Linked DNA regions of Homo sapiens: region 1 is reported to be linked to region 2. The links are microRNA targets in miRTarBase. Many come from high-throughput screens and were not tested one by one. Region 2 holds a microRNA gene; the other region holds the end of a gene's coding sequence.
What was found. The annotated mature microRNA hsa-miR-6735-5p reads CAGGGCAGAGGGCACAGGAAUCUGA and lies in region 2 at 1,181-1,205, opposite strand. An mRNA with a match to its seed (bases 2 to 7 or 8) in the 3' UTR can be bound and repressed. Matches are read on the target gene's strand: a 7mer-m8 pairs with bases 2 to 8, a 7mer-A1 pairs with bases 2 to 7 and ends in A, and an 8mer does both.

Region 1 (3,000 bases), not on the chromosome of region 2:
TGAGCAAGTACCTTCCAATTCTATTCTTCTGTGCAATACTGGACCATCTCATTCATTCATGTGCATGACAGTAATGTGGATTTAGAGTAAAAAGACCCACGGTTGACATCCTGGCTCTAGTGCTTACCAGCTGGGTGGTCTTGGGGGAGTCACTTAATCTCTCTGAATTAATTTTCTTATCTGGAAAATGAGGACAATAATAATAACATCTGCACCACATAGATTTGTGAGCTCCCACATATGGGCATGTTTTCTAAACTGTAAAACACTATTCAAATGTTACTGAGTATTGAAAGACCTTGATGGCTGTAATTTTTTTAAACTTCCCTTTAAATATGCAAATGATTATGATTGACATCAGAAACACAAAAAAGATCACAGCTGCTGGATTTGCTGTTAACTTATCCCTGCCCAGGGGGATCTACTACCCCATCAGTGCCTCCTGAGGCAGGGACTTAAGGGAGCTGGGCAGTAAATGTTGATCCCAGGGTAGAGGCTGAAGGTCTGACCTCCAGGGACACAGGGCGAGGCTATTTTGCCATTCAGCAGAACTTCTCCCACGTTGCTTCTACAGTTTGACAGCAGACTCCCAGCAACTACTTCCCTGGTTAATAAACTGGCAGTAAATTGAAACCTTCATTTTCTAGTGCACTTCATGTAAAGGGAGCAGACCCTCTAGAAATGAGTAATCATTTGTACAACTCCTCAAAAAATATGCTGATAAACTCACAAAGTTCTGTTATTGCTAAACACTAGTTGCATTTCCTTGGGTAAGCACCATAAAAAATTCACTGCAGTTTTTAGAAAGAAGATGCCAGTCACATTTTAACTGCTAGAGAGGAGAGAGTTGGGGAGAGGCTTACCCAAGGAAATGCTAACTGGGCATAAAACTCAAAAAGAGAGGCCAAGTCAAAGGCCCAGTTCCAAAACAAGAGCTAAGAAGGAGAGATGGGTCCAGGTGCGGTGGCTCACACCTGTAATACCAGCACTTTGGGAGGGCGAGGCAGATGGATCACCTGAGGTCAGGAGTTCGAGACCAGCCTGGCCAACGTGGTGAAATCCCGTCTGTACTAAAAATACAAAAAATTAACCAGGCATGGTGGCTGCAGTATGCCTGTAATCCCCGCTGCTCGGGAGGCTGAGGCAGGAGAATTGCCTGAACCCGGGAGGCAGAGGTTGCAGTGAGCCAAGATGGCACCACTGCACTCCGGCCTGAGTGACAGAGCAAGACTTCGTCTCAAAAAAAAAAAAAAAAAAAAAAAAAGGGGAGAGAGAAGGAGAGATGGGCCTTGCAGGGAAACCAGACCTTCCCAAGAGAGCATTGACTTAAGTGCTTCTCAGACTCAAGATCTCAGAGCACCTGGATGGCTAAGGCTTTTCATTGCAGATCATGACATGTAGATTTTTTTTTTTTTTTTTTTGAGACAGAGTCTCACTCTGTCACCCAGGCTGGAGTGCGGCTCGGCTCACTGCCATCTCTGCCTCCCAGGTTCACGCCATTCTCCTGCCTCAGCCTCCCGAGTAGCTGGGACTACAAGGCGCCCGCCACCATGCCTGGCTAATTTTTTGTATTTTTAGTACAGATGGGGTTTCACTGTGTTAGCCAGGATGGTCTCGATCTCCTGACCTCGTGATCTGCCGGCCTCGGCCTCCCAAAGTGCTGGGATTACAGGGGTGAGCCACCGCGCCCAGCCAACATATAGATTTAACAAATTTAAAGAATTAAACAAACCCCATTTCTACAAAAGATACAAAAGAAGAATTAGCCGTGTGTGGTGGCATGCACCTGTAGTCCCAGCTACCAGAGAGGTTGAGGTGGCAGGCACTGAGCCCACAACATCGAGGCTGCAGTGAGCAGAGATGGTGCCACTGCACTCCAGCCTGGGCAAAACAAATAAGCACAAACCAAAATTCTCAAGTAGATGAACAGGAGTCAGCACCAAAGCTTCAATATGTATAGAAGATAGAAGGAAAATTGTAATTCTACCCTGTAATATGTGTTTGTGTCTGTCTGTCTGTCTGTCTGTCTTTGTGCGAGTGAGAGAGAGGAGACAGAGAAAACTGGACCAAGACCATATATCACTTTAATAACAGAACTCCTTGGACCAGTTCACAGAACTGTCATTTAAAACCAATGTCCTAGACCAACTCCAACCTTCTTGTTTTCCAGTGTACCCACCCCACACAGGGCCAGCCACAGCCAGGTGAGAACAGGAAGGGGAGTGGAGAGGGAGAGTGGAGAGGGTCCTGACTCCCATAGGCTTCATCTGGGCTGGCCCAGCCTTGACCCCATCTGCCCAGGAGCCTCTCAGCCATGGAGTCCTCTAGGGAGGCACTTAGCCCACCTAGAGCACAGGAAAAAGGTGGGACGGGGGGCACCTCCCAGCACCCTCCCAAAAGACTCACACAGGGGCAGGGAGGGGAGAGGGCAGAAGGGCAGGCTTCCTGCTGCTTCTAGCAGCCTCTTCATCTCCAGCTCCTACCTCTCTCCTCCCCCTCATCCCTCAGCAACCACAGCATGCCCAACCAAGTCCCAGCCTCTCTTCTGTCATTGAGTCTCTAGTGAGAAAGAGGACTCTGAAATCAGGGCCCAAGAGGAGAGACCTGTTGGCTGGGTGGCTGGCCAGTGGGTAGTGACTGTTCCTCACACACAGTAGTAGGAGGTCCATGCGTTCTGTGTCGGAGGCTACTGCCTCTCCTCCATTAGTGGAGCTGCTGGAGGCCCCAGGAAGCATGAGGCAGTGGTGTGCAGTGAGACTGGAGGAAACAGCAGGACTCAGAGGAGGGAGTCCTAGACCAAAAGGGAAAGGAACTGATTCACAGCATGGCTCTACACTAGCCAAGCGACTTTTATTTTAGTAAATCACTTAACCATGCAGGGCCTTGATTTTCACTTCTATCAAATGAGGCTAAAAATATCTGCTGCTCAAGATTTTTTGTAAGATTTCTTTGAGAAGATCAATACATACATTCCCTGTAAACTCCGAATGTATTATCTAC
Region 2 (5,940 bases):
CCCTTATGTCCATCTGCTCCCTAACGCTCTGCTTGGTGATCCATCCCGGGATGATTTGCTCTCCCAAGGCTTCAGTTACCGCCTGTTCACAGAGCTGCTGCCTAGGACTCTCCTGAGCTCGAATCCCTGATGCCCACAGACCTTGCAGACAGTGAAGGGCCTATGGACCCCAGACTCAGCTTGCCCCAAGCTGGGCTTGTCACCCTTCCCCAAAACCCACTCCTGCTCCAGCCTTCCCACCACCCGCAGGAGCACCTGCCTCCATTCACAACCGCCGACACTACTGCAGCCTCATCCTAACTGACCTTGGCTTCTCTGGGAGACCCTTCCTGCACCCTGAAATGAATCCTCTGCACAAGCACTGTGCTGCAGGACCCCTCACCTGGCTCCACCTCCTACTTTCTCACTTGAAGTCTTCTCTTGTAATGCCTCCTCTCTTGAACCTCAGCTCTGGCTGGGCCCATCTCTGTGGGCTCCTTAATGCCCTGTGCTCGTGTCCACCACCACAGTTCTCTCTACCTGTCCTTTACAGCAGTGCTTTCACGCCTCAGTGTGCACACAAATCACCTGGGGAGACTGTCAACCTGCAGATCCCGAGTCAACAGTCTGAAATGTGGCCGGAGAGCCTGCATTTCAGCAAGCTCCCAGGTGCTGCGGCTGCTGGTCTGTGGACCACACTTTAAGTAACAAGGCTTCAAAGTCCAAGGGGTCCTTTCTGGGGCTCCAGCCTACTGACAAAGTTCTGACAGCTCCTTGGGTTGTCAGTTCCAGAGCCTGGCCCTCAGGATCTCAAGCCAAGGCTTGTATTCTTGGTGAGTCTTTGAGGGCAGAGCTGCTCAGAGAATCACATGCTGTAGCTCGATGCCCGGTACTGGAAGGGTTTTACATGTATCTGTGTAGTCCCGTTCTGTCTAGGCCTCCCTCCAGAGCAGAGCTTGTTTGGTCAGGCTGAGGGGCACATCTGTTTGGTGAGGATTTCTGCTGTGTTTCCCTTTTCAGAGGAAGCTCAAGGGGACTTACCAGGTACTGAGTTCCCAAGTCTGGGCTTTGGAAATGGCGACAGCTCTGGGGGAAGCGGCTTAGGAGAACTTTGATCAGGCTCTGGTACCAGGAGACCGTCATGGATAGGAAGCAGTCCTGAGGGAGGAGCCACAGGCCTGAGTCTTCTGTGCCAGTCACCTCAGATTCCTGTGCCCTCTGCCCTGGCTGCCAGTGGAATTCCTGGCACCTATCCCAGCTCTTTCGGGAGCCCACAGTTCCTTACCAGCTGGGGGTCGATGTCCCCAATGGATTTGGCATGGACTGCTTCTAGGAGTTCCTCCAGCTCTGCCAGGGCCAGGCGCCCCCCTAGCCGCAGTCGATCAGGCCCCGGTGGCTCCAGCAAGAAGAGGCGCTTCCAAAGGGTGTCCCGACGGCAGTGCCCTCCAGCCAGCCGCACCAGCTGAGCCAGCCGTGCTCGTGCCATGCCCACCTCTGCAGCCAGTGGTGGGAACAGAGGAGCCGGTCCAGGCGCTAGAATAAGCCCTGAGGCCTCCCCAGGGCTGCCAGCTGAACTCCCAGGAGCCTCTGGCTCAGGGGGCAGTCTGGGTGGCTTCCGGAAGCGGCGCATGTCAGCAGTGAGCCTGGGGAAGAGCTCTCGCTGGCTGGTGAGCACCACGAAGAACTGTAGCCTGGGGTGGGGAGCAGGGCAGGAGAGTGGTGGTTGTAGCAAGAGACACACAGGGCAGGGTGGGGCAGGCTGGGAAATGGGCATGTTCAAGGTAGGGGATCTGCTGACCGCAGAACGTGCCGCTCAGCCTCTCCTTGCTCCTCAAAGGGTGCAGCACAGTGACAGACAAGCAGAGACACATCAAAGTCATCCTGGTGTCGAAGTCCCTCAGAGTCCAGGTAGGAGCCAGAACTGTGCAGGACGGGTTGGGGAGATGTCAACTCTGGGGTTCTAATAAAACAAACCTCACCCCTGCCCAAGAAAACATTGGTCTCCCTACTGCAAGTATGTCCCAACCCCAGCTCCTGCAGCGTGCATGCTGGATGCCCCTCTCAGCCTTACCTGTGCCATGCCGACACCAGGGCATACTCGTTGTGTTCTGGGCCCCCTGGCCGGGCCATTCGCAATGGCTTCATGTGGTAAGAGCTGGCGTGATCAGCCACGTAGTTGTATAGCTGGTGGGCAGCAATGAGTGGTGTGGGGAGCTCCAATGTCCCTGAGGGATAAGTAACAGGAGACAGCAGACACTAAGCCTAGGACAGACACACTGGTCTGGTGGGGCACAGGGATGGGAGTCTTTAAGGCTCTGACTGGCAGGCAGAGTGGGTCTGCTTTCCTTAGGAGCTCCTGCATTCCTGTGGAACACTGAGATGGGACAGAAGTGACTCAGAGGGCAGGGGACATGTGACATGGGGTCCAAACTCTGGTAAGAAACAGACACAGGACAGAAACATGGGGACGTGGTATGTGTGACATGAGATGATTAACAACATGGGACCACTTGTCCAGGGAGGTGGTCCCACCAGCCCTGACCTGGAGGCACCTGTGGCCTGTTCTTTTTTGGGTTCACTGGCTTGCCCTTGGGCACTGACCTTGGTAAATGTGATTGCGGCCAAAGTGGGGTCCGTCAGGGTGGTGGGCCAGGAAGTGTCGCAGAAAGGTGGTGAGGTGGTAGCCGTGCCGCAGCACCAGATGGGCACCTAGCACGTGCTGATGCACGAGGCGCAGATGGAAGTCATAGCTGAACGAGTGCACGTGCATCAGGTCCCGCACCTTGTCACACTCCTCTGTGAACAGCATGGACAGCTGGGGAGGCAGCAGCAGGAGACAGGGTTAAGGTATGGCTGCACTGGCTGCCCAAAACACATTTCCCTCCTTCCGTGGGAAGAAGCACAAGATTTCCCCTGCTGCTGTGGCCTAGTGGAACGCCCTCTGCCAGAATGGTTTCTGTGGGAAGGCCTCCCCATTCTAGCCTCCCTTTTTCATACTGTATTGTAACTATCTCCATGAAACTAGGGCCATTTTCAGAAACTGGGCCATTTTGCTCTATCCCAGATTCCATCAGGGTCTGCCACAGACTCTAGATGACTACAGGCCAGACCAGGCACTGTGCTGCCTCAGGGCTACAGCTGAACACGCTTTGGATGACCGATGGGGTCAGCCTTGTAGTGAGTGCAGTCATGGCACCAGAATGAGCACTGACCTAGCCAGGCCATAGCAGTGAATCAATCACTGGGCCAGCCCGCCTACTGCATTACTCTACTGCCCAGCAAATGGGACATGGAGCCATGCTGCCCACAGCACACTGGGGTGCACTGACTGTGCCCGCAGCTCATTCACATACCTGTGAGTTGACAGCCTGCCCCATTGGGATTCGGGAACATTCCAGGGCAAACTGTTTGACACAGAAGTAACAGCCCTGGAGGGAAGGTGAAGATGAGATCAGGAAGGCGAGAGACAGGTGGGTCTGGCTGTCTCCACTCAGTGCTCCTCCTGCTTACCTGGAATGCCAGTTCCATGAGGATGATGCCCCCAGGCAGTGCCCGCTGCAGGTGGTAGGTGGTTACCGGAGAGCTAGTGCTCTGAAGAAACAAAAAAGGGGGCAAGGTTTGGGGGCTCACCAGCCTCGAATCAGTAGGGTGGAAGTCCCTTGGACCCTGACTTTAATGGTGTCAGTCTGGGATCAGTGACCTCGGTACATCACTCAGGGTCAATGACCTCAGGCCGTGGGAAAGTAATTTAGCATCAGTAACTTTACCATTATATGACAAGTTACCTTGGGGCTCCCATCAGTCTTGGTTTTAGGGCAGGAGAAGGAGCCTCGACCCTCTGTTCCAAGGATAGCCATGGCCCGTGGCCGGCTGGTGCTATAGAAAAGGAGGAGGGATAAGAGGATGAGGCAGGCTAGTGGCATGCAGTCATGGTGATCAGACCCAGAATCTGTTTTATATGGAATCATTTTGCAAGGGAGGAAACAGACCCACAAAGCTGCCACTGTGAGTGGCAAGGCTGGGCTTGGAGTCCAGGTCTAGACTGCAAGGCTGGGCTCTCTCCATAGCAGCTGCTGCTTCAAGGGAGGCAAAAACAGTGCTCAGTGGGGAGGTGGAGACTAAGCCTCTGCTACTGAGAGGGTGTGTGCTGGGCAGGAAAGAGAAGGGGGAAGGTGATGCCTGTCTACAATTTGATTAGGAAAATTCAAGGAGATGCTTGATGCCTGGTTAGGTACCTTCCTCTGAAAGGGCAAAGCTGCTGTCTTTTGATTGGGGGGGATGGCAGTTCCAGGCTTTCAGAGGCCTACTGCTCGTTACAGTTTAGTGCAGAGGATAGGGGAGAAGGGAAGCAGGGGAGGGACTGGGAAGAAGGGACAGAACAGAAGGGGTTGGGGGGACCCACTCACGCCAAGGGGCTATAAACTGCCAGAATTCTTGCTGGGGGTCAAAACCTCTGGTGGAAAAAATGTCCCATTTAAACCTCAAGGAAACTGGGACAAGACTTAGTGATTGGTGATTGTTAAAGATTGGTGGGAAGGGAAGACCTGGCTTTAAATTTTGCTGTAGAAACATTTTTTTTTTTAACCCAGTGTCTAAAGGAATTCAGATTTGGGGGAAAGAGCATAACTTATGGCAAGTGTGCAAACTAAAGTCCTTTAGAGAAGCTCCTAGAGCTGGGAACTGGCTGTCAAGATAGCAAGCTGGGCAGCTCCTCCCCAGGGTAGGAGGGGCCAGCCTGGCCTCTGAGATGGGATCACAGGAGGGGCAGGCACGCCTTCTCTTCCTAATGCCTGGAAGAGAGGGAAACCTGGGGAGTGGGGAGCTGGTCACAGAAACATGAGAGAGTTGGAACTGGCATTTCTGGACTACTGGCTTGAAAAGGTTCTAACTGAAAACAGAGAGGAGGGAGAACATGCCTTGATAAACTCACAAATCTGGAGACACGAAAGTAGCTATGTGTAAGGTGAACAGCTCATTTTTCGCATACAGCCACTGGGAAAGGGCAGAGAACACAGAATCTGGAGAGGAACATAGAGCAGGGGCCACAAACACGGGAATCTGAGATTTGACAGTGGATGAAAAGGTGGCTGCAGAGTTGTCCCTGAGCTCAGGGGAGATGGAGGTGGCAACAGACGGGCTGCCTACTTCCCAAGACTCAGACCTGTCAGTACTGGCCAGTGGGTGAACATGACCAAGAACAGGCCAAGGACAGTGATGCAAGTAGGCCTAGCACAGAGGTCCTTGGTGAGAAAAGGACTTCCCTGGGCCGAGAACTACATCAAATCTCAGGAGAGGTCAGTGGGATGATAAGGACAGGAATCATTAAGTCCTAGATCCAGAGGCTTAGGAGCATGTACAAGATTCACATGTGCAGGCCGGGCGTGATGGCTCACACCTATAATCCTAGCACTTTGGGAGGCTGAGGTGGGCGGACTACCTGAGTTGAGGAGTTCAAGACCAGTCTAGGCAACATGGTGATACCCCATCTCTACTAAAATACAAAAAATTAGCCAAGCAGGGTGGCGTGCACCTGTAATCCCAGCTACTTGGGAGACTGAGGCACAAGAATTGCTCGAACCCAGGAGGTGGAGGTTGCAGTGAGCCGAGATCGCGCCACTGCACTCCAGCCTAGGCGACACAGTGAGATTCCATCTCCAAAAAAATTCACATGTGGGGATGTATGCAAGTGTGTAAGTGTACAAGATGTGTGTGGGCATGAGCTTTGTGAAAATGGACACAGTTTTGTATGAGTGTCATCATGAGTTCCATAAAGCATACAAGGTCTGCAGGACACGCATGAGGGCTGTGTGAAAGTATCTGAGACCCTCACATGAGTGCAAGCCTGGTGGGATAAACATGCACAGGCCCAGCCCAAATTGTCAACATAGGACCTTGTAAAGAGAGGAAGGGCCTGTGGGGCCTCACTTGCAGTGCAGGAGGAGAAGACAGAAGGGAAAACAG

Region 1: the mRNA of TMPRSS5 is a reported target of hsa-miR-6735-5p. Seed matches in the 3' UTR shown: 7mer-m8 at 2,434-2,440 and 7mer-m8 at 2,426-2,432.

The regions. Positions count from the first base shown.
Region 1 is chr11:113,685,484-113,688,483 of GRCh38, forward strand. TMPRSS5 (transmembrane serine protease 5) reads right to left here. Exons shown (of 13, transcript NM_030770.4): 13 at 2,067-2,791. The coding sequence ends at 2,777. It overlaps LOC107984390 (a long non-coding RNA gene), which reads right to left and starts at 1,027. Exons shown (of 3, transcript XR_001748391.2): 1 at 1-1,027.
Region 2 is chr1:43,443,809-43,449,748 of GRCh38, reverse strand. It overlaps MIR6735 (microRNA 6735), which reads right to left and starts at 1,210; the gene lies at 1,138-1,210. SZT2 (SZT2 subunit of KICSTOR complex) reads right to left here. Exons shown (of 72, transcript NM_001365999.1): 63 at 3,765-3,855; 64 at 3,490-3,570; 65 at 3,333-3,407; 66 at 2,581-2,794; 67 at 2,051-2,204; 68 at 1,778-1,900; 69 at 1,265-1,670; 70 at 1,021-1,137. It overlaps SZT2-AS1 (SZT2 antisense RNA 1), which reads left to right and starts at 1,105. Exons shown (of 2, transcript NR_046744.1): 1 at 1,105-1,646; 2 at 1,817-1,973.